Homo sapiens: one gene and its partners. The protein of the gene in region 1 purifies or fractionates together with the protein of each later gene. This does not show direct contact. Each region holds a gene or a part of one and is shown on either strand. Other genes may lie near its edges.

Region 1 (7,616 bases):
TACATGAATTCATAGAGTATTTACTAAGTGTCCACTACCTGTCAGGTGTTCCAGGTACCAGAATCATGTTGACCTCCAAGTTGGTTTAGTGGGTAAACAAGATAAGCACTACCAATAGCATAGTAAATGCCAAGGCCAGGAAACACAGGGTGTAATGAAAGCACAAAGAAGTACCCAAACTAGGCTGAGAGGCCTGACACATAAGCTTTGACTTAAGAGTACGGCAGGAGTAAGACTGGCCCAGGAAGAGGGGATAGATAAACAAGGGCCCAAAGCACAGAGCACTGGCGGGTGGGATATGTGTTTTCCAAAACAGTCATTTCCCCTATATGGAATTTTCCTTCTCCTTGGCTTTACCTTCTCTCAAATAGGGCTTCTTCTACATTACCCTAGGCTATACCTACTTAAGGACTGAAAATGTTTTCTAGTCATCCCAATTTTCTCCTTCTGTAATATAATCAAAACATCTTACCTTACTTAGATCATGACTAAGTATATCCCAAAATTCAAGCAGTAAACTGGTATCTTTCCTGTAAATGCCTCAAAGATGGAGCCTTACTCCCTAAAACTCTCATGTAAAACCAGAATTCTCACACTTCTTCCAAATTATTCCCACCCTTGCCAAGTCTACCAATCACAGCAAATGATGCAATTCTTTAAAAGCCAAAAAGTTTAGCAAGAAGCCAAGTCCCCACCCCAATCTTCTTTCCTTCTGTTTTTAAACAACAATCTAACTGGGGTCATGGTTTTTGTCTCTTCCCTTACCCCCACCACTCCAACTACAGACATGGATATATACTTCTTTTAATTCCCATGATCACAGTTCTTGTCTAGGCCTCTGATATTCTCAGTTTCCTCATTTTCAATGCTGGCTTAATTAGAAAAAAAGTCATCCTCAAGGACCATTTGGTTGCATGGAACAGAAACCAGTCAAACTAGTTTAAATAAAAGAGGGAATTTATTAGAAGAATACAGAGGTTCTTGCAGAGATTCCAACAGCTGCAAGGGGTCAACAGCTAGAATCACGCCTTTCTGAAGGACAGAGTATGCTGTAACCACAAACTTCTAATTCTGGGTTCTGCACCATCAGGAAGAGAATATCCTACAGGACAGTTCTCCTTGTATACTGCATAAAGGACTAGAATGTGGATTCATTTCTGCTTGCTTTTTGATCCTTATAGTCCTTTATGCTGGCCTCAAACTTGTCAAGCACATGTTGGCAGACATTCATGAGCTCATTCAGGCCTCTCTGAAATGGCTCAACAGCTGGAAGGGTACCTCGAGTCTGAATGCGTAAATTAATTTTGCTCTCTGAAGGATGGGTCGTAGTGTAACCACAAAATTCCACTTCCGGGTTCTTCATGATCATGTAACGTAGAGAATTTCCTAGGGTATGGTCTTCCTCGTGCAATACAAATGTCACACAGTGTCTATCTGTTCCAGCTGCCTGGACCATTTCCAGGGCTGTCTTCCTCTCGCCTTCAGCCATTGAGGTCTTCAATCCAGATATTTTTCTACACACATATTTTTTATAAAAATGAGATCATACTGAATATTGTTTTGTAACTAGCTTTTTCTCATTTACTATATCACATTGCAACACATTATTATTAATCTACTCCAGCTACACAGAATTATTCGCCTCTCATTTTCCTGCCTCCACAAACTCTATCAATAAATATTTAATTTATTGCCTCCAGTTTTTCCCTGCTCCATTTGACCATCCACACTGGCCACAAGGGGAGTTTTCTTAGAAAAACACAAACTTAAGTGTTTGCAAAAATATTTTTTGGTAGAGTCACAAGCAAGGGATAGGATTAGAATAGGACTGGTCCTGCTAGAGGATGAAGAGAGGGTTGAAAGGCATAGAAATCCCGATTGCTCTAGTATAAAAATAGAGGATACAGATGATCAATGTGCAGGCCCAACTACGGCTTCCATTTTGCAAGAGAAGGAAACTAGGAGAATGGAAGGTTCAGGAGTCAAGCAGCAGGGAGAAAAAGAGCTCAGCGCACAGAGTGGCTTTAGGAGCAGTCTGCACATAGAAAGAAGGTGAGCCGTAGTTACAGGGACAGAGGCACGAGTACCGTCCTCAGGAGCAGAGGCCCGGGGCGTGATTTTTACACACTGCTGTTGTAACGGGGGTGGGCAGTTCGGATACTTAACTCTGGTCTCCCAACTTGTCTTCCCTCCTTGATAGCTAGTGTACCTCTCAGCCTCTCAACTGAAACACATTCATGTCTCCTCCCCACTTCTCTCTCCATGCTTCTTCTCTGCGCCCCGAGTCAGGCCCCGGCTGCCAGGCCAGGCAGCGTGCCCCTCGGCCACCCGCTCCCCTTGGGCGCGGCCCGCTCCGCCCGCCTCCTCCTCGGCCGTTACCTCTCCAGCTCCTGATCCTCTTCCATCGCTGGGGCGGTTTCTGGATCCTCAGGTGGTGCTGGCGGATCGGGGGCTCTGTCCCATAGCGCGAGGCGCGGAGGCGAAGCAGGAAGCAAGGACCGACCGACGGAAGGCGCGGAGGACGGAAGGAGGGAGGAGGAGCCGCAGCGGCGCGGCAGGGCCCAGCCGCGGGGCGGGGCATGAGGCTCCACCCCCAGCCCCCGCCCCGACGCGGGGTGAGCGGTGGCTCGCGGCCCCGCGGCTCACCTGGGCGACCACGCGAGGCCACTCGCGGCGGGAGGGGCAGGGGGCGGGGCCAGCGCCGCCTTACCCCGAGGCCCAGACAGGCCTGCGGGCGCCCCGGCTCAACTCTGGTACCTTTCCCCAGGTGATGGCGAAGGGGCGCGGCCTTACCTGCCGCCCCCAAATCACTTCCCTTCCCAGTGGCAAGTCCGAAAGCGGCCCGACTTCCCAACTGGGGCGGTGTTGACCCAGGATGGCCCTTCCTGGGACCCCGGCCCTCCCGGGCCTTTTGTGGGACGACAGGCTTAAACTGTAGTCGGTCAACACACCTTGAAGAGGGAGGGGGGTCACGTGCGAGATGAGTCACCACAGAATACGAAGGTTGAAGGCGGTATTTGTTTCACCGGGGAGCTTGCAGTTGCATTTTCAACTGGGTCAAAATAGGGCAAGAAAGAAATGTCTCTTTTGGGGGAGTGAGAGTTTGGGAGAAAACTGTTTCCCACCTTATCCTTTCCGTCCTAGGATTCCTTCTACCCCCAGAGCGCGTCCTCTCCGGCTGTAGACTTCCTTTTCCCTTTCTCCCCAGTGGCTCCTCAAACCTCCTCACCTGCGGAACCCGCCCTCACCTTTGTTCCCAGGCGCCCAGCCCCCGCCTCGGCAACCTTTCGCCGCCCAGGCTCGCTCTCCATCCAGCTCCCTGCGTCCCGGCCTTCGCTGTGCTCCCTCAGGTGCGCTTCCTCTCGAATCGGCCCTTCTTGTCCCCTCGCCGCTGGCCCCGACCCTGCCCGACTCCAGCTGTCCAGCGCAACTACGTTTCTGCTTCCCTGCGCCACCTGTTCTCCTGGCCTCCCCCCACCCCGCCCCGCGATTCCTCTGGATGTTCACTCCTTCCCCAGCTGTGCCACTCTTGGCGGCGGCCGGGGGTGCGCGCAGACACCTAGCCAGCGGGGCTTCCGCAGGGGAATCAGGCGGGCGGCGGGGACAGCCCGGGGCGAGTGGGGGAGGCGGGCGGCGAGGGCGGAGTGGTCTCACTCTAACCCGGGAGTGACGGGTCCCTTCTGGCCCGCCTCCCGAGCTCTCGGATAGGTGGAGCCGCCCTCTGGTCCGCCCACCTCCCGCCCTGTGCTACCTCCGATTGGCCCGGGTGCGGGTTGGGCCGCTCGGCCTTGGCGCTGCCCCCGGGAAGGCAGCAGGGGCGGTTGAGAAGTGAAGTCTTGGCCGGAGTTTGCTTTTTGCCAGGAAATCCGCGGCGGCGGCGGCGGCGGCGGCGATTCCTGGCGGAGCGGAGCCGGGCAGGCTCTCCGCTCCCTCAGCGGGCCGCGGAGAGCGGGAGCTGGTGCCGAGCAGCGGCGCCAGGAGCCCGTGCGCGGCCCGGGCAGCCGCGCTTTCCCAGTGAGTAACTTTGCCCTGCCCGCCTCGCTGCGCGCCCTCTCGCTGGCTGCGGGCAGCCGCCTCAGGTGCGGGCGTCAGCTGGGTGTGGGTCAGCGCCGCGCCCCGGGAGGCGGCCGGAGCGGCGCCACAGCTCGCCCCGGAGCCTTGGTCCTTCGCGGCTGTCTTCGCTCGCCCGGGCTGCGGGGCTGGCGTGGACTCGGGTGTGGGTCTGGTCCAGGAGGGAGAGTCGGCGCCCGGTGCCCGCCGCCTGCAGGCGCCCGGGAGGCGGGCGGCCTCCGGCTGTTAGCGTTTGCTGGTTCCGGCCACCGTGGTGCAGAGCTTGGCGTCGTTTGCTTCTTAAGGGAAGGGAGAGGTGGGGTGAGTGTTTAAATTTCCTCTGTGTGTGTGTGGTGTCGGCAATGAGAGTGGCACTAGCTGCCTTTATCGGGTTTTGTTCTCTGGAAAGGGATGGGGAGAGATCATTCCCTCCGCCCCAGCCTGTTGCCTGTGAATTCTCACCTTTCTCTTTAGGCTGGAGAGGGTGGGAGAGAGATTTGACATCTTCCAGGGGGTAATTTAAAAATATGAATCTTGATTTGGAAGCAGTTGCACACAAAGCATCATTCAGGAAATACATCACTCGCTTTTCAAAGCTGTATGCCACGTTTTAAACAAGGACTTTTGACTCATGTAGTGTTTCTTTTAGTATTTCAGTTTACGTTAAGTTTATGAATCCAGACGTTCGTTTGTACCAGGAGCTAAAGTACACTTATGCATGGGCTTTGCTGTGTATATTATGCTTTTTAAAATCACAGAAATCAGAAACAAAGTTGAGTGAAAAGCGGTGGCGGTGCAGGAGGAGGAACACTTGTGAGCTCCAGCTTATTGGAACTGCCTTTAAGAATTTCACATTCTTGCGGCAATAGTACTTACTTGTAAATTGGCCTTCTTCCCAGGACAGGTTTTGATATTTCTTTTGCATGTACTTCGATGCAGCACTAATGAAGTTGGATCTCAGTAGATCAATTTTATTTACTTTGCTAGATTTGATTCCCACCCCCACACCTCTTTAGAAAATGGACTTTGGCAGGTAAAGAAGGAAGCGGGAATCTGGTATCCTTTTTGGCTTGTCAAAGCTTTGTTGAGCCATGAATAACAAAGTTTTGGCTTTTTAGCTTGTCCGAGTCCCACATGTGAGTTTTCCCATGGGGTAAAAGTAGGCCAAATGAGAACCAAAGTAGAATAACATCACTTTTAATTCGGCCCACTTGTGTGTTACATTCTCCATATATCTTGTTTCTCTCATCAACTTTGAAATTTTTTCATTATTTATTCATTTAGCCACTGATAAAGTACCTACTGCATGCCAGCCATTGATGGCGGGGGTTGCTTCTTGCCCAGTTTTCTCATTTGGAAACTGATCCATGCCTTTATCCCACTAGTTACCCTGAAGTAATTTGAACTTAGGGAGCATTTCTGCCTGGAGACCTGTAAGAATAGGTGTTACGTAGGCACTTAGTCTTCAGATTGGTTTGGGATTTCGTACATTGTAGGCACGTAGCACGCAGGCCACTTAAAAATAAATGTATGTGTCTTTGGGCTGTTGTATTACGAGCTTTGCATATGGGCTTGTCTGGCCGAAGGACCCAGTGTCCGAGGTGGAGGTAGTAGTCAGGGACATGTATTATTCATTTCAGAACACTTGGCACCTTTTCTTGCTTACATTGGGCACTAAAATATTTACTGAATTGACTTGAACAGAAAAATGAAGGATTTTTTATACCAGATTAAGAAATTTGGACTTTATCCAGTCAGTGATACTGAGCTGCTAATTTTAAGCAGGAGAATGTCATGATAACGGGTAAGCATTCCAGAAAGATATCTGCAGCGTCTGGAGGATGGTGGGCTTCCAGATGGGCGATATGGAGACTAAGTTGGAGGCTGTTCTAATGGAGGGGTTAAGTGCTCAGGGATTCTCTATTCAGATTACCTGGGGTGGAATCAGGCTCTGTCATACACTGAAACCTCTTTGTTCCTTAGGTTTGTCATCTCAGAGTTTGGGGGATAGAACTTGAAAAAACATGTCTATTACTTAGAATAGTGATTGCCAGATAGTAAGGACTTAGTAAATGCTAGTGTGCTGGCAGTGGAAGGAGAAATGACGTGGTGTTTAAGAGGTATGACTAGGAGGCTGGACTAGGTAAGTGACTGGGTAGGCTTAAGGAGGGAAGGATGAATCCTGGGTTGTTTGACTTCAGGCATTGATTGACATGTACTGGGTAAGCTGGCTGTGAAATTAAAACGGGTCAAATTCTAATTCTATTACTTACCCTTAGAATAACTATCCTGACAGAACTTTGATTTCCTAACATTTGGGAAATGATTGTCGTACCTGTTGAGTAGGGTTTGAGGAATTATGCATGTAATGCCTTTGGCAGGGTACCTAGCACATTCCAAGTGCTCAGTAAATATTAGTTGTTCCTTTAGATGATGACATTAATGAGCTAGTGGAATGTTGGAGGATATGAGAAGGAGCAGTTAAAAACAATTGATGGTAGAGGTGTAGAAGGGAAGATAAGTTCAGTTTTGGACTAATCTAAGGAGGTGCTAAATGGATGGTTGAGAGATCCATGATGCAGTTGTTGGATAGTTGTGTCTCACAGGAGCTAGGAAAGAATAGAAAAGAAAAAGAGTTCACAGAAAGGCTTTATGAGTATGGTAAGCTTTATGAGAGATTTAGAGGAAGGGGAGGGTGAAGGGGTTCACAGTGGAGCGATATCAGAAGTGTTGACATTGAATATTAGGCATTTCTATCCTTAAAATATATTTTGGCCACCATCAAAGAAAGGAGGACTCCAGGCTCTTGTAATCTGGTTGGCTCTTTGGCCTTCTTCCCCTCTTCTTTCTTTCCTTTACAATTGCCACCCGATATCTTTAAATTGTATTATGAGGAACTATTTAACTTTCCTTCCTGCTTACAGGGCTAGAGTTCACAGGCCCACCTTCCTCTATCCAAATGCATCTAGGTTTTTAAAAAAGAATCACAGGTCTCATTTCATAGGTTCTCCTCTATTTAGGAAGCAGTGTTGTTTGAAAAAGTAATACATATGTATCTTGCATGTAGAATTAGAAGACTGGGGCAGGCCTACCTAAATTGACCCTGTAGGAGGGCCTGAGAGTCTTACAAAAGACATCCCTTTTAGCTTTCCTGGCACCTGTTTCTTTTCCTCAGAAAATACAAAGCAGTAGGAAAATCTGTGGTTAATAAGTTATTTTGTTTGGTTGGATTCAGAAAAGGTGGCTATTTTGTGTATTAGCCTTCTAAGAAGTTATTAAGAGGAATTTTTTGGCCAGGTGCAGTGACTCACGCTTATAATTCTAGCACTTTGGGAGGCTGAGGCGGGCGATCACGAGGTCAGGAGTTCAAGACCAGCCTGGCCAACACAGTGAAACCCTGTCTCTACTAAAAATACGAAAATTAGCTGGGCGTGGTGGCAGGTGCCTGTAATCCCAGCTACTCAGGAGGCTGAGGCAGGAGAAATCGCTTGAACCCGGGAGCTAGAGGTTTCAGTGAGCTGAGATTGCGCCACTGCGCTCCAGCCTGGGTGATAGAGCTAGACTCC
Region 2 (7,868 bases), on another chromosome or scaffold:
TTCAATAATGTTGATTTAAAAGAAAATTGAGGCCAGGTACTGTGGTTCATGCCTGTAATTTCAGCACTTTGGGAGGCTGAGGCAGGCGGATCACTTGAGGTTGAGGAGTTCACCTGGCCAACATGGTGAAACCCCATCTCTATTAAAAATACAAAAATTAGCTGAGTGTGGTGGTGCAAGTCTGTAATTCCAGCTACTCGGGTGGCTGAGGCACAAGAATCAGTTGAACCCAGGAGGCAGAGGTTGCAGTGAGTCGAGATTGTAACACTGCACTCCAGCCTGGGTGATGGAGTGAGACTCTGTTATTTAAAAAAAGGCGGGGGGGGAGGAGAGGGGAGGGAAGGAGAGGGGAGGAAATTTGGCAAAGGAAGATAGGAAAAAATAGCTAAATGCATAAAACTTCATTTTAATTTTTTCAGCATACATTTTCTAAGCTGTTTACATCCTTCCTTACCAAGCTTTTTCATGCTGCCTTATAAAAGAGCACTTTTTCAATATTTTAACTTACATTTGTTTACCTTGTAGTGCCAGCTTGTGACTTAAGAAAGTTGTTATCAAGAAAATAGGGCTTTTTAGAAAGATTATGCCTTAGTAAGTAAAGGGAATCATTGGAGACCATAGTACAGCAAAATGGGATAATAGAAGTAGAATGCAACTTATAGATATTCTCCTTGTGTTATTTTATATGTGTGTATATATATGTAACGCCCTTTTTAAGGAAGCTGAAAATACTAATAGGGGAATCAAAGTTTGAGCGTGTGCTGCACACAGGCAAGCCCTATCATTTGCTTGCCTGTTGCTTATTGGCAAAATGGTTAGTCAGCCATTCATTATTTTTATAAACATTTGGGAATCTGATAGCATTTTGAAGTTTTATGATATAGAATAGTTTATAAATTCTATTTTAACATTTTAACTTACACACCCATAGTCAGTGCTGCTAAAAATGCACGTACATGTATACTCTCACAAGTTCTTTAAAAGGCCTTTAGAGAAAACTTTTTGATGTCATAAGCACTAAACATTTGCTAAACTATTTTGCTGTTCATCCATTCAGTGGTCAGTTGTAATGCCTGAGAATTATGTTCTGGGCCTGGTAGCACAATTTATAGCAGGATCCAGTCTCTTTCACCATTGTTTAGAGGTGCAGCCATTTATGCTTCCCTGCTGCATAATAATGCGTGTCTCAGGTTTCAGAAGACATGTTTGGCAGCCTGGTGGGACATTGCCTGAACCCTTGTCTCCAGCTGAGTAAGGTATACAATTGGAACTGAAATCTCAACATAAATTTTAAGTGATTTCATAAAAAAGGACAAACTTATTGTCAGTGAACTTTACCATAATCCCAGCAGTAGTAATCTTATTTCTAAAACAGTAAGTGATCTATTGCCAGGTATCCTGCCCAGTTTATTAGTTGGCACTAAAATAACATAAATCAATTGGCAATTTATAGTGCAACCTTGATAAAGTTCATGAGTTTCAGTTTGACTTGTTTTTCAGCTGAATCTTTTTAAGTTTTTAGAGATTTAAGCACATACTGTCATAAAAAGTATAATAGAATTCTTCAATTTAATTTGCTTGACATTTATTGAGCATCTATAATAAGCATGGCACTGCACTAGGTATTCCCTACATATGTACTATTTCTTTCAGTAGTAATTGTCAAGTAATTTTTGCTGCTTGAATGGTTTATTTTCTTTTTCTTTTCTTCTTTTTTTTTTTTTTTTGAGACAGGGTCTTGCTCTATTGCCCAGGCTGGAGTGTAGTGGTATGATCTTAGCTCACTGCAACCTCTACTTCCTGGGCTCAAGCGATTCTCATGCCTCAGCCACCCAAGTAGCTGGGACTACCATGCCCCGTTAATTTTTGCATTTTTAGTAGAGACATGGTTTTGTCATGTTGCCCAGTCTGGTCTTGAACTCCTAAGCTCAAGCAGTCCACCCACATCGACCTCGCAAAGTGCTGGGATTACAGGCATGAGCTACCACGCCCAGCCTGAATAGCTTATTTTCATCCCCAAAATGAAATCATCATTGATTTAATGACATGAGTATGGAGAAAAAGTTAAAGGAAATAAATACTGAGTTTTGGTGTCTGCATACCCTAGGGTGTAACTCTGTGAAATGGCACTTAGGTACTTCGGAGTGTGTGTGTGTGGTGTGTATGTGTCACTATGGAAGCGTGTGCAAGAGAGAGAGACTTAAAGCTGCCTTAGCTATTCACAGGGGGAGAAAAGAGATACCTAGGAGAAGTTAAAGAGGCTCAGTAGCCCACACTCAAGCTCAGCAGTAGAGCAAGCCTGAGTTTTCCAACTTTAACATCTCTTTGTAGCATCAGTTCTGTGTCCACAAGCCGAGGAGACTGAAAGACTCATCTTCAGGCAGGTGCATGAACCCCAGTGTGTTTATAAGGGGAAATGAGAGAAAGGGTTAACATTCTGATTTCATGTTCAGTTGACAGTGACCCAATAACACCCATCCGAGGAACAATCAGGTGGAAAGACTGATTGCTAAGGAGGGAAGAGCCCACCCCTGATTGGGCTGTACCCTAGATTTCTTAAGGAAGGGGCCAAGCCTTTTCTCATTTTATCTCCAGTTTTTGGCACAGAGTAGATGTTTATTAACTGCTTAATACATGAATCATCAAATAAATGCATAATCCACTCTTCCTTGCTCTCACTTGAATTCCTCTTTGTTCATTCTTTTTCTTCCCTTCTCTCCTGTATTCTTTTTCATTTAGAACTTTTGCAATTATTTCTTTTTATGGAATATACCTGTTTATCCATTTTATAAGCTCCTCGGATGTGAACACTGGGCGTTGTTCTTACATTACCTCTCCCCAGCAGGCCTGGAACACGGTAGAACCAAATAAAGAATTGTTGATTGTGAAATTAACCAGTGGAAACTAAATCCCTCAAATGGGATAATGTAAATCCAAAAAGTCTAAATTATTTAGATTAAAATATACTTTATATTTTTCCTTCTTTGTAGAACTTTAAATATTAGTGAGAAAAGTTGCTTTTGCAAGTTGTTAAGCCACCATGAGAGTATTGCTTTTGAAATGTTGAACCTGAAGATTTTGTTCATTTTAATTAGTGATGTTAATGTATTTATCTCTATATTCATTACTACCTTATTATTTCACATAATAGAATGTTGTATTTTGTTTTCTCCCATATCAATGCAGGTACTATAGGATACAACCAGCGAAACAGAATTGATACTCTCATGTATCTACTAGCATATCCACAAAAACCCATGGTTAAGACAAAAACCATTGAATTGATAGAATTTGAGAAACTGCCAGCTGGACAGAATGCAACAGTTGCTGTGATGAGCTATAGTGGCTATGATATTGAAGATGCTCTTGTTTTAAACAAGGCCTCTTTAGACAGAGGTAAGTGAATTTTCAAAACTAACACCAAAGTTGCTTTTTGCAGAATTAGATATAGGGATGATTAATGTAAAAATCACTTGGTTAATGTCAGTTTTAAGTTATTTGAATTTTATGATATAGAAACAGGAGGTGGTTGGGTTTTGATGTTGGCTTTCTTGTCATTTTTAATGACTAGTATATTGAAATAATTTGTTAAACATACTACTACAGAATATTTTTCTCCTTTATTATTTTATTGGTTACGTGAGACAATCCTTCAAAAAGAAAAAAAATGTAAGAATGTGTTTGTTTTCCAGCAGGAATTACAGTATATGAAATATGTGTTTTCACTGTGTCTAGTGATACATATTATTAACAACAAACCTGTTTGAGAGGGCAGTAGCAATATTTGGATGTAAAAGGCTGTTTCTTATTTGTGTAACCTCATAATTTGGTAACTTCTTTGGCCAAGTGACGAAAGTTAAAAATACACGGCCACAAACTCTGGCGTGGAGTTTTTCTGCTTTTCTTTCTGTTTTTGACAATACTTTCACAAGTCACCACCTCGTGGTTTGTTAGACATCACCTGATCTGAAGTCTGACTTCTCTATTCATAATCTCGATTTCTCTTTTTCCTTCCTGGCGTACCCACTATGCCTTCCCCTTCCCTCTTTGTAGTTGCTAGGCAGCCATAATAGTACTCCTAGACATGTGTCTTTGGCATTAATGTTGGCCACACTTAATTTATGCCTCTTTTTTTCCTCCAAATGACAACAGCCATGCTTTAAAACTAGATGTTTTCCTTTCTGATTAACTGGTAACGTTTATGTGGAAATCTGAAGACTTTGTGATGTCTGTCAGAAACTCTGCAACCCAATTCAGTGATCTGAGTTTACTATCCCCTAGCTTTTAAGCTATCACCTGTAAATAAAATGTCTGTTTACACTTTGAAGAAAACACTTCTTGATTTCATGCAGTTAAGATTCACATTGCACTCCAGCATGTTGCAGTTAATGGCTACTGTATGAAATTTCAAGATCATGTAATGTTTCCAAACCAGCTGGCATTCTGAGCCGAGTTTATTATGGCCATACACAATTTCCTAGGAGCCATGATGACTACGGCCTTGCTTAAAGACACAAATGTCTTCATCTGACGTCCAATTTTAGAAATTCGTTACTTCATCTCACAGTCACCTTCATATTTAAAAAATTACATTACAGCCCTGAGATTTTATTTATAAATCCACTTTTACCTGATTGATTTCTAAAGTCACATTCTTAGATTTCTGTTTTTGGTGGAAAATTGTTAAGTGAAGGATTTTACTGCCATGCATTTATTTCATCAGTAATAAGCGGCATTTAATCCTGAGACATTTCTTATTTAAGTGAACTCTGGCATGGCTCAGTATATCCTGAGGAGATTAGTAAGAGAATCCAGTTTAAAATAACTGCTTGGCCAAAGGGAAAAAAGAAAGAAATGCAGCCACAGAATCAGGAAATTATAGTGTTGAAGGAATGACAGCTGTTTTGGGTAACTCTACAACTCATGGATTTTTTCTTTTAGGGATTCAGTGGTTGAGTTTTTTTGCCCCACCCAAAGGTTTTTCTTCTGTCCTTTTTGCTTATTTTTCTTCCTTTTCTTTTCTGATCCATTGCTAGACAGCTTATTTTTCTTGATGTTTAGATTGTTAGTTGATTTCACAGCCTTTCCCTCATCCACTAGATAAATGCAATCTAAAAATGTAATTAAACTCCAATCTTTAGGGCAGAGGAGAACTATTTTTCCCATTGAAATAATTTGATTATTTCTTTTTTCATTCTGTCTCTTCTCTGGAGAAAAATTATTGTTTTTACTTGTTGGCTTAGAACTTGCTCTAAATGCCAAATTTTAAAAAGGAAAACTTTCCAGGGAAGTTTAGCAGAAGTTATGCACCAAAAGGATGTGTATCCTGGCTCAGGAGTCAGTGGACTTGTGCTGTTCAACACAATTCTCAACTCTGCTGCCAACTTTTTGGATGACCTTGGCCACTTAATTTCTCTAGACCTCACTCCTAGTGCCTGTAAAACAGATAGGTTAAGCAGGTGATTTCTAAGGGCCTTTCCAATTCTAATATTCTATGGCTCTGTCCTCTGAAAGAATCACAGCGCCAGTCTTAGATTTCTCTCACCGTTCTCCAGTATGACAAGGTGTATTCCATGCAGAAAATGGTTGTAGAGATTCCAGTGTTTACACAGACAGTAGGTAGGGGACAAGTCCTGTGCTGCTTCTTCAGATTATCAGATTTTTATTTGGTTTGTACTGGTCCCAGATTATTATCAAATACAGAGAAGTTTTGGGATTTGGGGGAGGGTGAGGTGGAGTGGATTGTTGAGTAGCACAAATCCATATTTCCTTATAGCTTTGGGTTACTGGTGGTTCTAATGCCCATCTTGGTTTCATTTTAGGCTTTGGGCGTTGCCTTGTATATAAAAATGCTAAATGTACGTTGAAACGATACACCAATCAGACTTTTGATAAAGTGATGGGGCCCATGTTGGATGCTGCTACAAGGAAACCTATCTGGCGACATGAAATCTTAGATGCAGATGGTATTTGTTCTCCAGGTAAAAGCCTTTTAAAAGAAAAAATTTTAATACTTTTTGACATCATATGTTATTCAATAATATTTCTGAATATTTGGCAAAAAGGGCAGAAAAAAGTAACAACCTATAAAACCACCATCCAAACTCAACCAATGAGGTCATTTTTGATGAATTTCCTTCCAGTCTGTTTTTCTATACACTATGTTTTTACCTATCAGTAATCTATGCTAACTATAATTTTCTAGTTATAATTTTGAATAATAGAAAAGCCACTTTAAGGAAATATTTAGAGTAGTTTATGTCCCTGCATCTGCACTGGTATTTCTTCATTTACACATTTAGCTTACAGACTACTTTAGAATTTTATCCCCCTGCAAAGGTATGACTCCATTATAATTACAAACTTGTAATGCATTTTGTTGATGAAACAAATAGCCCTTGCCCTTATGGGTCTCACAGGCTAGTGCAGGAGACTGACATTGATCAGAGGATCATGCATAAATCCAGGTTAAGGAATCATATAGGTAACTATGAGGCCATTTTATAGCAAGAGAATTTGACCTTGTTGGGAAGATCAGCATGGCTTTCCCGAGGAAGTGAGCTGGAATCTGAAGGATAGGGAAGAGTTAACTAAAGAAGAGGATCAGGGAGCATGTTCTAAGTAATGAGAAAAGCTTGTGCAAGGGTCCCAGAGCTTGGTAGTTGAAAGGTCTGAAAGAAGACCAGCGTGGCTAACAAGAAGAGAGTGCAGGGAAGCATGGTGCACATGAGTTGGTGGGTGACGCAAGGGGTAGGGGCCAGAGTAAGCAAGTCCTTGCAACCATGTTAGTATTGTCTTTATTTTATTTTATTAATTTTATTTTTGAGACAGGGTCTCAGTCTGTCACTGAGGCTGGAGTGCAGTGGCACAATCTCAGCTCACTGCAACCTCTGCCTCCCAGACTCAAGTGATTCTCCCACTTCAACCTCCTGTATAGCTGGGACCCATAGGCACGTGCCACCATGCCTGGATAGTTTTTTGTATTTTTTGTAGAGATGAGGTCTTACCATCTTGTCCAGGCTTGTCTTGAACTCCTGGGCTCAAGTTCTCCACCCACCTCGGCTTCCCAAAGTGCTTGAGCCACCATGCCGAGCCCATGATACTATTTTCATTATGATCCTAAAAGCAATGATATATTCAGATATGTGTTTTGAATGATCATTCTGACTACAGTGTAGAAAAAGGATTAGAAGGGCACTAAAATAGAAGGTAGACCTGGTACCAGGAGCTGTGGTGAAGGTGGAGAGAACCCAGTTTGTGAGGAGGGAAATCCACATGACTTTGTCATGGTTGGCCTGTGGGCGGTGAATGCTTTATCAAGCTGTGGTTCCAAAGAGACACAGAGTACGCGACTTCTCCTCCCTCCCTCTGCCTTTGTTTCTTGGAGAATTTTTCTCACCCTAACACTGGTCAGTATGGCTTGGAAAATACGCGCTGTGACAGTACTACAGGTAGTTGGTCTTTGAACTTACCAGGAAGAGATACAAAGCAAAAATGGGAATAACAGCATAACCAAAGAAATATTTTGATTTCCTTGTTGCCCAAGTTAAATTGGTGGTGGCTTATTACTGGTTGAAATAACTATAAATAAAAATAAGTGACCAAAACTTAACACCCTAAGAGATATATAAAATTGCTATTTACTGAGATGATGTTTCTCATGTTCATGTAGTACTCTGAATTATTTTCTTAATTTTATATAGACTATGATGTGTGTGTGTGTGTGTGGGTGTGTGAGTCTCACTCTGTTGCACAGGCTGGAGTGCAGTGGCATGACCATAGCTCACTGCAGCCTCAACCTAGGTTCAAGCAGTCCTCCTACCGCAGCCTCCTGAGTTGTTGGGACTGCAGGCCTGTGCATCTTTGCC
Region 3 (7,868 bases), on another chromosome or scaffold:
TGGAGTCTGTACCCAGGCCATCCTCATCCCATCCCTAGTGATCAAGGTCACTCTCCCTGCCCGTGGCTGAGTTGGGCCTGGTTCTAGGCTGTGTCCACTGCAGCCCACAGGCCCGTCAGCCTCTTGCCCCTTCTTAGGCTCACACAGTGCACATCCGACGCTCAGCTTCCCGGCTTCCCGCAGGCCCTGCTTCCAGGCTTGTAGATCTGAGCCGCTGAGATCTAGGACATGTGCCAGGGGGTTCTTTCTGATCATGAATGTGCAGCAGGAAGGCCTCGCAGACCTCAGCACCAGCGCACACTTGCTAGGGGCACCCCTAGTGAAAGGGAGCAGACCAGGGCCCCATAGTCACTGCCCGGGCATTGTCCCAGGCAGCAGGATTAGGGGCATCTCCCAGAGCCCCAGATGGGTTCAGAAAATGAAGCTCTCCAGGCTAGTCAGGCCCCCGATGACCGAATGCCGCCTGCTTTCCAGAGACCAACCTGAAGAAACAGGGCCTGCTGCCTCTGACCTTCGCTGACCCGGCTGACTACAACAAGATTCACCCTGTGGACAAGCTGACCATTCAGGGCCTGAAGGACTTCACCCCTGGCAAGGTTAGGGGCCCGGGTCCCCCTGAGGTGGTGGGGTGAGGGGCAGCCACCTTGTTTCCCCTCCTGCACTGGCCCCAGGGTAGCTTCTCCCAGGAGGCTTCATTCCAGCTGGAAAGGCCCCCAGTTCTCCAGGTGGCCCCACAGAGAAAGCAAAGTGGCTTCTCAGAGTTGGGGGTTGGAGTCAACCCGGGGCCCTCACACCTCCCCAACCTCCCTTTACTCACCAGGACCTGGCACTCAGGGGACAGCCCACCCACTGCAGGACCCTCTGGGCCCCAGGAATCCCCTGTAGGTGCCACCTGGGTCTGACCTGGGCCATCAGGCACAGACTGGCCTAGGATTTGGTTTGCCTGCTGACCTCTTAGGTCCCCAGGCAGTGCCCTGTCTCCCTGACCCCCCTGCGGGGCCAAGGGCACACAGTACCCACCACTTCCACCCACACCCACCTTCTCCTTGCAGCCCCTGAAGTGCATCATCAAGCACCCCAACGGGACCCAGGAGACCATCCTCCTGAACCACACCTTCAACGAGACGCAGATTGAGTGGTTCCGCGCTGGCAGTGCCCTCAACAGAATGAAGGAACTGCAACAGTGAGGGCAGTGCCTCCCCGCCCCGCCGCTGGCGTCAAGTTCAGCTCCACGTGTGCCATCAGTGGATCCGATCCGTCCAGCCATGGCTTCCTATTCCAAGATGGTGTGACCAGACATGCTTCCTGCTCCCCGCTTAGCCCACGGAGTGACTGTGGTTGTGGTGGGGGGGTTCTTAAAATAACTTTTTAGCCCCCGTCTTCCTATTTTGAGTTTGGTTCAGATCTTAAGCAGCTCCATGCAACTGTATTTATTTTTGATGACAAGACTCCCATCTAAAGTTTTTCTCCTGCCTGATCATTTCATTGGTGGCTGAAGGATTCTAGAGAACCTTTTGTTCTTGCAAGGAAAACAAGAATCCAAAACCAGTGACTGTTCTGTGAGTGATTGGTGTCTGTGCCGTTTGTTGTCAAGTCCAGGGTCCAGGAAGGGTCTTTTCAGTCAAGGTCAGTGGAGGCCCAACAGCCACAGCCACAGATGGATCCATCACTGCAGTGAAGGAGGAGCAGGGCCTAGATGGTGGAGGAGCGGGGCAAGCTGGTGGGCACTCCTGGCCTTGCCTCACTGTCCAGCTCGAGACACTATCTCCTTAGCATCGGCCTCAGCTGCTGTTGTCTTCACAGCCGGCCATACCACCTTCCCGCAGGCTGGTAGGGTCCACTGTCCAGCCCCAGGGCTAGTTGCTGGTCCACCAGGAGAGAAGGCCCAGGCCTGGCTCACTGATGGATCCCTGCCAGGGATAAAGAACACGCACATTTCACTGACATGCTGGCTTGAACCAACCTGGACAGGAGGTGAAGGGAGCCCAGCAGGCCCAGCACAGGCAAAGAAGAGGCGGGGCACACGGCAGCCAAGAGGCTCTGGAGAGATGTGGGAGCCACAGCAGTGCTCCCAACGGGCACGCAGCACGCAGGGCGCAGACCCTTCTCCAGGGACTCCAGGCCCTGATAGGGTCAGGGACCCTTCCTCACCCTTAGGCCTGCCCTCCAGGGCCACCTAGGTTCTAATCGTGGCAGGAAGGCTGAGCAAACACAAGGCCCATGCTCCAGACGCATCCAACAGGGAGCAGCCTTGAAAGCCACTCTTCCCCGGAGCCCTCCCTTTTATTTCACTGCTGCAATGCTGCTCCTACAGGGAGCCCTACCTTTTTTTTGTTGTTTTTTTTTTTTGAGACAGTCTCGCACTGTCACCCGGGCTGGAGTGGAGTGGCACGATCTTGGCTCACTGCAACCTCCACCTCCCGGGTTCACACCATTCTCCTGCCTCAGCCTCCCAAGTAGCTGGGACTACAGGCGCCCGCCACCACACCCGGCTAATTTTTTGTATTTTTAGTAGAGATGGGGTTTCACCGTGTTAGCCAGGATGGTCTCAATCTCCTGACCTCGTGATCCGCCCACCTTGGCCTCCCAAAGTGCTGGGATTACAGGCGTGAGCCACTGTGCCCCAGCAGCCCTACCCTTAATCTCAGGGCTTTGATCTCTCCCAAGCCCCTTCCTTGATTTCTTTCTCCCTCAAACCCCTCCCTACCCCCCAATTTTTTAAAGATAGCATTTCATTGTGTTGCCCAAGCTGTAATGCAGTGGCACAACCTTGAACTCCTGGGCTTAAGGGATACTCCCATCTCAGCCTCCCAAGTAGCTGGGACCACAGGGCACGCCACCATGCCCTGCTAATTGTTTTTTATAGAGACAACTTCTCACTTTTTTAGCCAGGCTGGTCTCAAACTCCTGGCCTCACACGATCCTCCCACTTTGGCCTCCCAAAGTGCTGGGATTATAGATGTGAGCCACTGCACTTGGCCTCAAAGCCGCTTTATCAGTGGTCTTGTCCACCGTGAGCTCTGTCCCCTTTGCAAGCTGACTCGCCCACCCCACCAGCAGCCATGTACCTTTACTGCCTCACAGCCCTGGCCTACAGAAACTCAGGCTCTCCAGGGAGAAGTGACCAGCCAAGACCCCCCAAACAGGATCCCTGACCTGCTGGGGGAGATCCCAGAGCAGAAGCCCCAGGACACAGCTTCCAGCCCTGCACTCCGGCTCTCCCGCCTCATGGGGGCTTCAGCACCATCAGAGCCACTCACCACAAGCGTGTACGGAGCCTCCTTCTTTGGCAGCTCCTCACTGGAAGTGGTGGCATCTGCTGAGCTGGGCCCTGTGGGGGACGTGTCAACAAAGCTCTCGTCCACCACCCGGAAGCGGATCTCCTCGCCGGTGTCCATGTAGAGGTCGTGTGCTCCTTCCTCCGTCTCGTACTCCCACACCCACACCTGCTCCGCTTCGTCGCTGAGGGGGTCCAGGGTCAAGGCAGCAACCAGATAGTGGGAGGGGCTTCCCTCAGCACCCACTCCCCGACCCCGCAGGAAAAACCAATCTCAGGGTGAGATCACTGTGGCTGGGAAGTCACAGGAAAAGCAGGTCCCAGCCCCATGCACAAGGCCTGGGCCAAACAGAGAGGAACAAGCGCTCTTGGAGGCCAGGACCCAGGAAGGGGAACATGGGGTCCCCAGCCAGGCACCACGGCCAGACGCACATGGATCTCAGAGCACCAGAGCAGGAGGGGACGAGACAGGGTCCGAGTCCCACCTCTCAAGACAAGAGCAACCTGGGCCTCCTGCCACGGAGCCCCACACACCCTTTTCATCAAAGCCTTGTGACAGGCTGATGGGCACCCAAGGACTTGCCGTTTTCAAGAGGACATAGTGGGATGGGAGGTCACCTGCCCACTTGGATGACAGGTGGTGAGAGAACCAGCCGGGCTGCGCCAGGTTTTCTAACACATCCTGGAGTCACATGCAGACCCAGAGCCGTGCTGCCACCCAGCCAGGGCAGTCCCCCTTGGCTCTCCATCGTCCCTGGCAGAGCCCACACAGGGGAGCCATGGGTTCTCTGGTGGCAGTCCCACTGTTGGGTCCTGCCTCTGTGCCAGGTCCCGTGCTGTGCACCGTGGGTACAGCTGTGACATGTCAGAGTCCTTCCCAGTGAGGAGCCTCAGATTTGTGGATAGCCCCACAGAAACAGACAACCCCAGTACAGCAAGGTGAGGGGTGGGACAGGGACAACGGAGGCCCAGGAGGAACACATCTTAGCCCACGACCCGGCACACAGGCAAGGCCTCACGTCCCAGGGACCAGTGCATGCCTCCAGGGCAAGTGATCTTTAAGATGATTCCTGCAGGGACAACCTAAGTGAAGTGAACCGGAAGTGAATGGTGTCCCCCAGGACACCACAGCTCTAATGGTGTGCAGTGTACAACCCAGACAGCCAAGCCTGATGGCCCCGACAAAGACAGGCATGTGGGCATCACATGACTCCCTGCATGGGAGGCACAGACAGGCTGGTGCCTCTGGAGCAAAAGCACAGGCGAGGGGCAGGCACAGAGGCCAGTGACATCAGGTTACAGGCCCCAAAGGCCACCCTAAGGAGTGGGGACCTTCCTTTGGAGAGGCCTGAGCTCCCTGTGACAAACCACTTTAACCCTTGGAGGATACAACTTGGCTGGCTGCTGCAGTGACTCTGGGGGGATGAGAATGTCATCGAAGAAGCCTAGAGAGACTGGAAGGAAGGAAGCAGGTGACGGCCTGAGATGGGGGTCCCAGTGGACGCCAAACACTGCGGGGTCTTATGCTTGACAGGCAAGCCCTGCCTGGGGCTGCCCACGAGGCGGATGTCGCTGTGGAAACCTAGGCCCCTTCCCCACCTAATGCCTCTGCGTACACCACCCACATAGCGGAGCAGCCCTGGGCAAAGCCCGGAGCACCTAGTCCCCAAAACCTCTGCACACAACAGGGGCCAGTGGGCGCTAAAGACTCCCAGTCACTTCCGCCAGCTTCAGTGCCCACCCTGAAGTCCTGAGTGACGGCCTCACAGTGAAACCGCACTGCTGATGGAGGTCCTCACACAACACATAAAAGGGAGGGTGGGCAAGCTTCTCTGACACCACGGGGAAGGTTCGGCCTCGACACCTGAGCCCTCCCCTGACCATGTGGGTGGACACAGACCTCCTGCCCCCACAGTGTTCCCAAGTCTTGTCTGAGGCGTCAGGGCCACTGTTACCGTGCACTCCTTCTGGGCTGCAGCCTTTGATCTTCCCAATGAGAATCTCATCTAGGAATGGATGAAACACCACGCAGCGAAAATGGACTGGAAATGAAGACAGCCCATCAGTGATGCTGACCGGGGCCCCAGTGCGCTCCCATGTCACCCTCAGGTGCCAGCACACCTGGGGGCCTGTGTGGCTGCTCCATGCCACATCCCCCTGCAAGCCTAGACCCTCCCTTTGTCTCCTGCAAGTTCACAGCATGGCCCCCACAGGGGGGCAGCAGCAGCTGTCCTGTAACTGGGCACTCCCAAAACTGCCAGGTTACTCACACCTGAGCCCAGATTCTGAGCCATCAGTGGCTCCAAAGTCAATTTCAACCTCCCTCCAGGCTCTCCTTCAGCTCCTAAAAAGGGCAGAAGCAACTGGTAAAGAACGCAGGGTTTGGAAACTCCCACCTCCTGCTGAGCAGCAAAGTCGGCCCCAGGCACAGCTCTGACCTGGAGAGGAGGCTAAAAATGCCCTGGTGTTGTGAGGCGCAGGCCAGCAGCCCAGCAAAAATGCCTCTGTGGGTTCTCAGGCCATGCTGCAGGTGGTCCCCACTCACCTGACTGCAAGGAAAACACCAGGTGGGGTCTGTGCCCACATCGCACACTCTGACCCCAGGCCCTGGCATTAGCTGTATGTCACCTTGTCACTCAGGCCCTTGCTCGAAGCCCCAAAGTAGGAGTCCAACGCTGACCTGAGAATCAGCACGCGGCTGCCCCCTGCTGGTTACCAACAGAGTTCCCACCGTGAGGATAAGGCAGTGGCTCAGAGCCAGGGTGACCCACTCACAGCCACATAGCCATGGGGAGACACCTGGTCTTTCTGTACCCACCAGACAGGGCCACCGGGTCGAATCTTGCCTTCCTCAGACAGGTTTAATCCCAAACACAGGCTTCCACGATGCCGTCAACCATTTAGTCGGCCAACATGCCCCCCAGGACGGCAGGGACCCTGGCATCAGCAGGGCATGAGGAGAGGCAGCCGATGGACCTCTCACCCTGGGAAGACACAAACGTGAGCCATCACAGCCACCATGAAGATGACTGGGCCTTGTGCTGACCTCCCAGAGAGCAGATGAGGGCGGCCAAGGGCCACTTACGCACAGATGGAAAAACCCTGTCCCCCACATGGCCCAACATTCAGTTTGGTTTAATAAATCCTCACAGAGGCCGGGCGGGGTGGCTCAAGTCTGTAATCTCGGCACTTTGGGAGGCCGAGGTGGGCAGATCACCTGAGGTCAGGAGTTTGAGACCAGCCTGGCCAACATGATAAAACACCGTCTCTACCAAAATACAAAAATTAGCCGGGTGTGGTACCAGGTGCCTATGATCCCAGCCACTCAGGAGGCTGAGGCAGGAGAATCACTTGAACCAGGAGGTGGAGGTTGCAGTACGCCAAGATCATGCCACTGCGCTCCAGCCTGGGCAACAGAGCAAGACTCCGTCTCAAAAAAAAAAAAAACTTCACAGAGCCTGCACCAGGTTTGTGCCAGGCCCAGTCTGGGCACTGGGCTCACGGGGGTGGGACAGCACATGATCCTGCGCCCAGGGAGCCCCAGGCTGGAACAACCACATCCAAAAGCAAATGCTGGGCACCCGGAGTCCCCCATGGATGGATGAGTAAACAAAACATGCTGGAGACACACAATGGAATATTATGCAGCCTTACAAAGGAAGGAATTCTGACATGCACTACAGTGTGGCTCAACCTCGGGCTGAACCTTCACATGGGGCCAAGTGAAAGCAGCCAGACACAAAAGCCACACAGTGTGCGACTCCATTCATGTACAGTGTCCAGAACCACATCCATAGAGACAGAAAGCAGTTAAGTGGCTGCCAGAGGCTGGGTGAAGGACAGGATTAGCAGTGACTGCTACTGGGCGGGGTTTCTTTGTAGGGTGATAAAAACGCTGTGGAATGGCCCCGCGCACGGTGGCTCAAGTCTGTAATCCCAGCACTTTGGGAGGTCGAGGCGGGCGGATCACCTGAGGTCAGCAGTTCAAGACCATCCTGGCCGACATAGTGAAACCCCGTCTCTACTAAAAAAATACAAAAATTAGCCAGGCGTGGTATTGGGTGCCTATAATCCCAGCTACTTGGGAGGCTGAGGCATGAGAATTGCTTGAAACCAGGAGGCAGAGGTTACAGTGAGCTGAGACTGCGCCATTGCACTCCAGCCTGGGCAACAAGAGTGAAACTCTGTCAAAAAAAAAAAAAAAAAAAAATTGTGGAATTAGATAGTGGTGATGGCTTAGCTGATGAGGGTGTTGTTCCTGGTGGGAGGGGGCCCTCTCCTGCCCTGCTCATATCTGCCTACTTACCATAACCCCTGGAGGCCTGTGGTGCCAGTCACTGTATTCCTCCATTCCTATAGTTCCTCCAAACTGGAACTTGCATCTAGAATTTTTAACAGATTCAACTCCTAGCGTTTAGCAACAGAACTGCCTCATAATCGGTGTTGAGTTCTTCCACCAGGAACTATATAATGCTTGTTTGTCTCTCTTTGGGGGAAGCTAAAAAGTTAATGATCATTGATGAGATCTGTCTTCATAAGGAGTTGCAAAATGGTGATAATGTAATTAAAAAAAAAAGATAGTGGTGATGGT
Region 4 (8,343 bases), on another chromosome or scaffold:
GCAACTTTGAAAAGGGACACAACCTTCAAGAACAGGTGGCCAGGTGTGGTGGCTCACGCCTGTAATCCCAGCACTTTGGGAGGCTGAGGCAGGCAAATCACCTGAGGTCAGGAATTCAAGACCAGTCTGGCCAACATGGAAACCCCGTCTCTACTAAAAATACATAAATTAGCTGGGCGTGGTGGCACACGCCTGTAATCCCAGCTACTTGGTAGGCTGAGGCAGGAGAATCTTGAACCCTGGAGGCACAGGTTGCAGTGAGCTGACATTGCGCCACTGTACTACAGCCTGGGTGACAGAGCAAGACTCCATCTCAAAAGCGAACTAAAAAAAGAACAATAAAAAGAAGAGAACAGGACGAGGGCGAGGAGGAAAGTATACCAGACAGAGGGTACCACAACGCAATGGTCCTCAGGAAGTGCTTAGAAGGTTAGAGGAGAAGGAAATACCTGTCAGTGGAAAGTGTGTGTCTGGGAGGTTGGGAGAGTGGCAAGTGGTAAGGCTGGGGAGTAGGTGAGGTTTTACAGGGTCTTGCAGGTCCTGGTAAGAGATGGAGATTTTCTCTAAGTACAATGGAAAGTCAATGAAGGGTTTTACCCAGGAGCGACATGTTCCAATCATTACTTAAGATCACTCCAGTTGCCATGTGGAGAACAGAATGGAGGCTGGGGAAGAGTGAACACTCAAAGGCTATTGCTTAATCCAGCCCAGAGGTGATGGACTACAAAGCTAACATTGGAGATGGTGAAAAGTAACTGCATTCAAAATATATTCTAGGGTGGAAACAACAGGACCACTGATGGACTGGATTTAGGGAGTGAAGAGAGAGGGCTAGATTTTTGGTCTATGCAATTGGATAGATGATGAGAAGAAGGTTAGAAACATACCTTTGAGAACCATCAGCACATAGATGGGTGAAATGACAGAGTGTGGAGAGAAAGGGTCCCAGGACTGAGCCCTAAGATACCACTCAACACTTAGACATCAAGCAAGAGAGGAACGGGACCCAGGGAAGGACACTGAAGTAGTCCTTGATGTAGGAGGAAATACGCAAAGGAACATACATCACAAGAAAAGGAAAGTTTCTAGAGTTTCTGTATTAACCACTGCTGAGAGATCAAGAAAGTTGAGGCCAGAAAATCAACCTCTGAATTTGACAAGATGGAGGGATCAGGTTTTTTTTTTTTTTTTTTTTGAGACAGTCTTGCCCTGTCACCTAGGCTGGAGTGCAGTGGCACAATTTGGTTCACTGCAACCCCTGCCTCCCGAGTTCAAGCGATTCTCCTGCCTCAGCCTCCTGAGTTACTGGGATTACAGGCGCCCACCACTACACCCAGTTAATTTTTGTATTTTTAGTAGAGAGGAGGTTATGCCATGTTGGCCAGGCTGGTCTCAAACTCCTGACCTCAGGGGATTCGCCCACTTCGGCCTCCTAAAGTGCTGCGATTATAGGCATGAGCCACCACGCCCCGCTGGTTCAGGTAATCTTAACAGTCATTCCCGTAGACCAGTGAGGATGAAAGCCCAACAGAATGGCTGAGAGAATGAGGGGCTAATCAGCACTTTCAAGAAGTTTTGTTGGGATGGGAAGCAGAAATGGAGTAAGAGGGGGACATGTATGTGGGGACGGAGGATTTTCTAAGATGAATTCTCTAAAGCAGGGTTGTATGCTCACAGGAAATGCTCTAGTAAAGAGGGAAAAATTAGTAATGATGGCTTGGACTAGAGTAAATTATATGAATAGTTTTTTAGGTTGCAGATGAAATCCCATCAGTGGGTTGCAAAATTAATTCAGTGGTTCAATTTTTTTTTTTTTTTTTTTTTAAGACAGAGCCTTACACTGTCACTCTGGCAGGAGTGTAGTGGCTCTATCTCAGCTCATTGCAGCCTCCTGGGATCAAGTGATCCTCCCATCTCAGCCTCGTAAGTAGCTGAGACTACAGGCATGAACCACCACACCCAGCTAACTTCTTAATTTTTTGCAGAGACAGGGTCTCCCTATGTTGCCCAGGCTGGTCTCCACCTCCCAGGTTCAAGTGATCCTTCTGCCTAAGCTTCCCAAAGTGCTGGGATTGCTGGTGTGAGCCACCACGGTTGGCCCCATTCATATTAATAAAAAATAGACAATATGAGAGTGTACGCCACACATTATTGTTTCATGAGCCTTTCATTTCAGTTACACAGACATATTGTGTTTAAAAAAAAATCGGAAGAGGCCAGGTGAAGTGGCTCACGCCTGCAATCCCAGGACTTTGGGAGTACAAAGCAGGAGGATCACTTGAGCTCAGGAGCTGGAGACCAGCCTGGGCTGTAGTGAGACCCTGCATCTACAAAACTTTTTTTAAAAAATTAGCGGTGAGTGATGGCGTGGGCCTGTAGTCCCAGCTACTGAAGAGGCTGAAGCAGGATTGCTTGAGTCCAGAAAGTGAGGCTGCAGTGAACCATGATTACACCCCGCCTGGGGGACAGAGCAAGACCCTGTTTCTTAAGAAAAAACAATTAATTAAAAATGTAAAAATGTGAAATGCCATAGTACATATAACCATTAAACATGAGGCAAAAGAACATAAAGGAAACTGTATCAAATAATCAGTTCAAAGAGAACACAAGATAGTAATACCTACAAATTAATATCAACCGTATAAAGCCCACATTCAGAGTAGATGCAAAATCTTCCATTTGCACCAGGCGCAACGAGCAAGCATGGAAAAGACCACGTGGAGTTAAACTGTCAGAAAATCTTTTACCCTCGCCTTGCACACACACCCACACACCCCCTGCTGTTTCTCTGGTCCCAGTCCTGGTTCACGTCCTTCCCTTCTCCACCCCAAAACCAGCCCCTTCCCTCACAGTGTTTACTGCTCCCATCAAATTCCGAGGGCAGCTCTTCCGAGGGCTCTCCAGGGGCCTACAGCTGCAAGCAGAGCTCTACCCGGCCCTGATTCGTCTCTCCTCCACCTACTTTCAGGGCGGACAGACTCAGGCCTTTATAGCCTTCTAAGTCCGGGGTCGGATACCAGACTGGGCTCCACCCCCGCACTGTGACCCAGAAACGCTGGTAAACGAATGAGAGAAGGAGGGGGCACATTGAAAGGCAGCCGGACACGGAAGTGCTCGGCCCCGCACCAGACACGGCGTGGAGGGGAAGCGAAGGTTCGGAAGGGCAAAGCGAGAGTCCCGTTCGTCCCCGTCACCACCCCGCGGCCCTCCCGGACAGGGCCGGCCCGCTGCCCTCACTCCCGTACGAGGGTCGCCCAGTCCCCACGGCTCTCGGCTCTCAGCTCTCAGCGGTCAAACCGTTGGGCTCCTCGGGCGAAAAGGGACGCGCCCGAGAAGACTTACACTTCCATGACGTCCCGCCTCGTCGCCCCTAGCTGCCAGCAGACAAAGAACCTCACACTTCACAGCTGTCTCCGCCGCCACCAACAGCGCCAAGGTGCCAGCTCCGCGCGCCAAGGTGCTCGCCGGGATCGCCGCGCTGCATGCCGGGAGCTTGGCGGACCCGGAACCTCGCGCTGCGCGTTCCCCTTTTTCGGGGGGCAGGGTGGGGGAGTGTCCCTGCATCCTTCCACCAGGCCGATTTAAGACTGCTAAGCGTTTGCGGACAGGATTATCTTGTGTTTTCTTTTCTTTTTTTCTTTAACCTTTTTTTTTTTTTGAGACGGAGTCTCGCTCTGTCGCCCAGGCTGGATCTCGGCTTACTGCAACCTCCGCCTCCTGGGTTCAAGCGATTCTCCTTCTGCCTCAGCCTCCCAAGTAGCTGGGACTACAGGCGCTTGCCACCAAGCCCGGCTAATTTTTTGTGTTTTTAGTAGAGACGGGGTTTCACCGTGTTAGCCAGGATGGTTTCAATCTCCTGACCTCGTGATCCGCCCGCCTCGGCCTCCCAAAGTCCTGGGATTACAGGCGTGAGGCACCGTGCCCAGCCTCTTTTTTTCTTTTTTGAGACAGAGTCTCGCTCTGTCACCCAGGCTGGAGTGCAGTGGCACGATCTCGGCTCACTGCAATCTCTGCCTCCCAGGTTCAAGCAATTCCCTGCCTCAGCCTCCCGAGTAGCTGGGATTACAGGCGCCCGCCATAACGCCTAGCTAATTTGTGTATTTTTTAGTAGAGACGGGGTTTCATCATCTTGGCCAGGCTAGTCTTGAACTCCTGACCTCGTGATCCACCCGCTTCGGCCTCCCAAAGTGTTGGGATTACAGGCGTGAGCCACCTCGCCGGGCTCTGTCTGTTTTCGTGGTCTAGGTTTTAACAAAGTATTAATCAGCTGAAGTTGTGAGACGTGATCGGGTTAGTGGGCCTTTGCATGTTAAAATCCCACCTCTCAGAGAGTAGTGAGGCTGGTGGCATCTGGGCTGCCAGAAACATTGCAGTTTATTTATTTATTTTTTAAGAGACAGGGTCTTGCTCTGTCGCCCAGGCTGGAATGCAGTGGTGCAATCAGAGCTCACTGCAGCCTTGAACTCCTGGGCTCAAGCAATCCTCCCACCCCAGCCTGCCAGAGTAGCTGGGACCACAGGTGCGCTCCGCTACACCTGGCTAATTTTCTTTTTTTCTTTTTCTTTTTCTTTTTTTTTTTTTTTGAGATCAGTCTCACTCTGTTGCCCAGGCTGGAGTGCAGTGTCGTGATCTCGGCTCATTGCAACCTCTGCCTCCTGGATTCAAGCAGTTCCCTGCCTCAGCCTCCCCAGTAGCTAGGATTACAGGTGCCCGCCATAATGCCCAGCTAATTTTTGTATTTTTTTAGTAGAGACGGGGTTTCACCATCTTGGCCAAGCTGGTCTTGAACTCCTGACCTTGTGATCCACCCTCATCAGCCTCCCAAAGTGTTGGGATTACAGGCGTGAGCCACTGCACCCAGCCACCTGGCTAATTTTCTAAAATAAAATTCTTTATTGTCCAAAGAGTCAGCTACAAAATTTTTTAATTTTTTTGTAGAGATGGGGGTCTCACTGTGTTGCCCAGGCTGGTCTTGAACTCCTCGCCTCAAGTGATCCTCCCACCTCCAACTCCCAAAGTGCTGGGATTACAGGTGTGAACCACCACAATAGCCTCTGTTGCCTACTTTGTAAATAATAAGGGTGTTAAATAATCCTTATAAAGTTCCTGGCACTTTATTAATTACTGTGGCAATACAACCATGACTCTCTATGAGGTACATTGCATTATTATTGACATTTTATAATTGAAGAAACTGAGGCAGACTTGGAGAGATTATGATTTACCAAAAGTCACTCATCTAGGAAGTTGTCCAGTGGGTATTGAACCCCAGCCAATCTGAACATATACAACAGATGCATTAACTAGAGACTGATGAGTGGATGAATAAAATGTGCTACATTTGTGCAATGGAAAACTACTTAAAAAGGAGGCTGGCCGGGCACGGTGGCTCACGCCTGTAATCCCAGCACTTTGGGAGGCCGAGGCGGGCAGATCACGATGTCAGGAGATCGAGACCATCCTGGCTAACAGGGTGAAACCCCGTCTCTACTAAAAATACAAAAAAAATTAGCCGGGCGTGGTGGTGGGCGCCTGTAGTCCCAGCTACTAGGGAGGCTGAGGCAGGAGAATGGCGTGAACCCAGAAGGCAGAGCTTGCAGTGAGCCAAGATCGTGCCACTGCACTCCAGCCTGGAAGACAGGGCAAGACTCTGTCTCAAAAATATAAAAATAAAAAGGAGGCCAGGCTTGATCTCAGCACTTTGGGGAGCAGAGGCAGGAGGATTTCTTGAGACAAGGAGTTCCAGAGCAGCCTGGGCAACATAGCTAGACCCCCTAACTACGAAAAGTTAGCCAGGTGTGGTGGTGAGCACCTCTAGTCCCAGCTACTGGGGAGGCTGAGGTAGGAGAATCGCTTGAGCCAGAAGGTAGAGGCTGCAGGGAACTATGATCACACCACTGCACTCCAGCCTACAGAGTGAGAGACCTTGTTGCAAAAAATATATATAGACAGACTGATAGATAAATGCTGCAAGATGGATAACCTCCCAAAACATGATGCTATTAATAAGTGAAAGAAGCCAGACACAAAATAATATATATTGCCTGGCCAGGTGGCTCACGCCTGTAATCCCAGCACTTTGGGTGGCTGAGGTGGGTGGATCATCTGAGATCAGGAGTTCAAGACCAGCCTGGCTAACATGGGGAAACCCTGTCTCTACCGAAAATACAAAAATCGCCAGGCGTGGTGGCTCACGCCTGTAATCCCAGCACTTTAGGAGACTGAGGCAGGCAGATCATGAGGTCAGTAGTTCGAGACCAGCCTAGCCAACATGGTGAAACCCCGTCTCTACTAAAAATACAAAAAGTAGCTGGGTGTGGTGGGGGGCACCTGTAATCCCAGCTACTCGGGAGACTGAGGCAGGAAAATTGCTTGAACCCAGGAGGCGGAGGTTGCAGTGAGCCGAGATCACGCCACTGCACTCCAGCCTGGGTGACAGAATGAGACTCCTTCTAGAAAAAAAAAAAAAAGAATACATATGGTATGATTCACTTTATATAGAATGTCCAAGAAGAGGCCAATCTATGGATACAGACAGAAGGCTAGGTTGGGGGCAAGGATGGGAAGTGATTGCTAATAAGTAGGGAGTTTCTCTTTGGGAAACAGAAATTGTCTAAAATTATTATAGATGGTGGTGGTGGTTGCACAACCCTGTGAATATACTGAAGACACTGAGTTGTATACTTTAAATGGCATATTGTACAGCATATTAATCCTATATTAATAAAGCTGTTAAACATTTTTTACTCTGCTGAGTGTGGTGGTCCACACCTGTAATCCCAGCACTTTGGAAGATGAAGGCAGGTGGATCGCTTGAGCCCAGTTTGAGACCAGCATGGGCAACATGGTGAAACCTCATCTTTACCAAAAAAATAGAAATTAACCAGCTTGATGGCTCGTGCCTGTAATCGTAGCTACTCAGGAGGCTGAGGCAGGAGCATCGTCTGAATCTGGGAGGCGGAGGTTGCAGATCACGCCACTGCACTCCAGCCTGGGTGACAGAGCAAGACTCCATCGCAAAATAACGACAACAAAAAAGTCATAAAATGCCACCCAGACCCAGCTGGCCTAGTTAGTGTGGAGAATTCCCTGTACCTTCGCTGAGGAGATTGGGCCCCACAAAGAAATGCTAAAGATGCCCCTTGTGTTATTCACTCAACAAGTATGTAGCCATGGCCCATCGGGGGCTGATGATACAAATGTGACTAACACACACCCTCTGCACTGGCTAGCTGACAGCCTAGTTGAGGAACCAGCTCTGGACATAAATAACCACAATGCATTGTGTTTCGACGCGATGGGCAGGGGAGGGAATGACTAATGAGGTGGAGAGGCGTCCCAAAGCCACGGGCCTTTGAAGTGGGTGAGGGAAAAGCACACGAGGCCGAGGGATTGGGTATGGGCTTCAGTGAAAAACAGCAGTGCCTCTGACAGCCCCCATGATAAAATGGCTCAGGTGTGACTTAGAGTAGGGAGTTAGCTGGGTGTTCGAATGATACCCGGTAGGCCAGGTGCGGTGGCTCATGCCTGTCATCCCATCATTTCGGGAGGCCAAGGCGGGTGGATCACTTGAGTCCAAGAGTTCAAGACCAGCCTGGCCAACATGGTGAAACCTCATCTCTACTGAAAATACAAAAATTAGCCGGGCATGGTGGCAGGCGCCTGTAATCCCAGCTACTCAGGAGACTGAGGTAGGAGAACCACTTGAGCCCGGGAAGCGGAGGTTGCAGTGAGCCGAGTAAACATTCTTTTTACTGTCTGCACCTCTGGTCCTGGATAGTCGCTGATCACCATGACAATTAAGGGTATGGACCTTAAGAAGAAAAGATTATCCTGGATTTTCTATGTGGTATCAACATAATCACATGGATCATTAAAAGCATAAAATCATTCTCACCTGATGTCAGAGCCCAAGGGAGGTGTGGCTAGGGAAGGGAAGAATGATCTGAGAGATGCAATATTCCTGCCTTTGAAGATGGAGGAAGGGGCCATGAGCCAAGGAATGTAGGTAACTGTAGAAGCTGGAAAAGGCAAGAAAACAGATTCTCCTGTGAAGCTTCCAGAAAGGACTGCAGCCCAGCTGGGTGCCACGGCTCACACCGGTAATCCCATCACTTTGGGAGCCCAAGGCAGGCGGATTACTTGAGGTCAGGAGTTTGAGATCAGCCTAGCCAACATGGTGAAACACTGTCTCTACTAAAAATTTAAAAAATTAGCTGGGTGTGGTGGCAGGCGCCTGTAATCCCAGCAACTTGGGAGGCTGAGGTAGGAGAATTGCTTGAACCCAGGAGGGGTAGGTTGCAGTGAGCCAAGATCGTGCACTCCAGGCTGGGCAACAGAGCG

The links.
Region 2: the proteins of POLR1D (region 1) and POLR3B purify together in Homo sapiens (affinity purification with mass spectrometry; 6 studies listed by BioGRID and IntAct, with this or other methods). This does not show direct contact.
Region 3: the proteins of POLR1D (region 1) and POLR3H purify together in Homo sapiens (affinity purification with mass spectrometry; 6 studies listed by BioGRID and IntAct, with this or other methods). This does not show direct contact.
Region 4: the proteins of POLR1D (region 1) and CRCP purify together in Homo sapiens (affinity purification with mass spectrometry; 5 studies listed by BioGRID and IntAct, with this or other methods). This does not show direct contact.

Annotation. Positions count from the first base shown.
Region 1 is NC_000013.11:27,616,773-27,624,388, reverse strand, and holds POLR1D (DNA-directed RNA polymerases I and III subunit RPAC2), read right to left. Parts: upstream 2,498-7,616; 5' UTR 2,406-2,497; coding exon 2,380-2,405; intron 1,515-2,379; coding exon 1,139-1,514; 3' UTR 940-1,138; downstream 1-939.
Region 2 is NC_000012.12:106,451,316-106,459,183, forward strand, and holds part of POLR3B (DNA-directed RNA polymerase III subunit RPC2), read left to right. Parts: intron 1-3,186; coding exon 3,187-3,396; intron 3,397-5,822; coding exon 5,823-5,981; intron 5,982-7,868. UniProt on the Homo sapiens protein: Catalytic core component of RNA polymerase III (Pol III), a DNA-dependent RNA polymerase which synthesizes small non-coding RNAs using the four ribonucleoside triphosphates as substrates.
Region 3 is NC_000022.11:41,527,427-41,535,294, forward strand, and holds part of POLR3H (DNA-directed RNA polymerase III subunit RPC8), read right to left. Parts: intron 6,262-7,868; exon of another isoform or gene 5,548-6,261; intron 5,320-5,547; coding exon 5,233-5,319; coding exon of another isoform or gene 5,178-5,232; intron 4,732-5,177; coding exon 4,668-4,731; intron 3,463-4,667; coding exon 3,261-3,462; intron 1,911-3,260; coding exon 1,857-1,910; 3' UTR 1,188-1,856; coding exon of another isoform or gene 1,053-1,187; 3' UTR 597-1,052; coding exon of another isoform or gene 475-596; 3' UTR 1-474. Other genes in the region: ACO2 (aconitate hydratase, mitochondrial precursor), read left to right, coding at 475-596, 1,053-1,187.
Region 4 is NC_000007.14:66,109,970-66,118,312, reverse strand, and holds the start of CRCP (DNA-directed RNA polymerase III subunit RPC9), read right to left. Parts: upstream 3,399-8,343; 5' UTR 3,351-3,398; coding exon 3,343-3,350; intron 1-3,342. UniProt on the Homo sapiens protein: DNA-dependent RNA polymerase catalyzes the transcription of DNA into RNA using the four ribonucleoside triphosphates as substrates.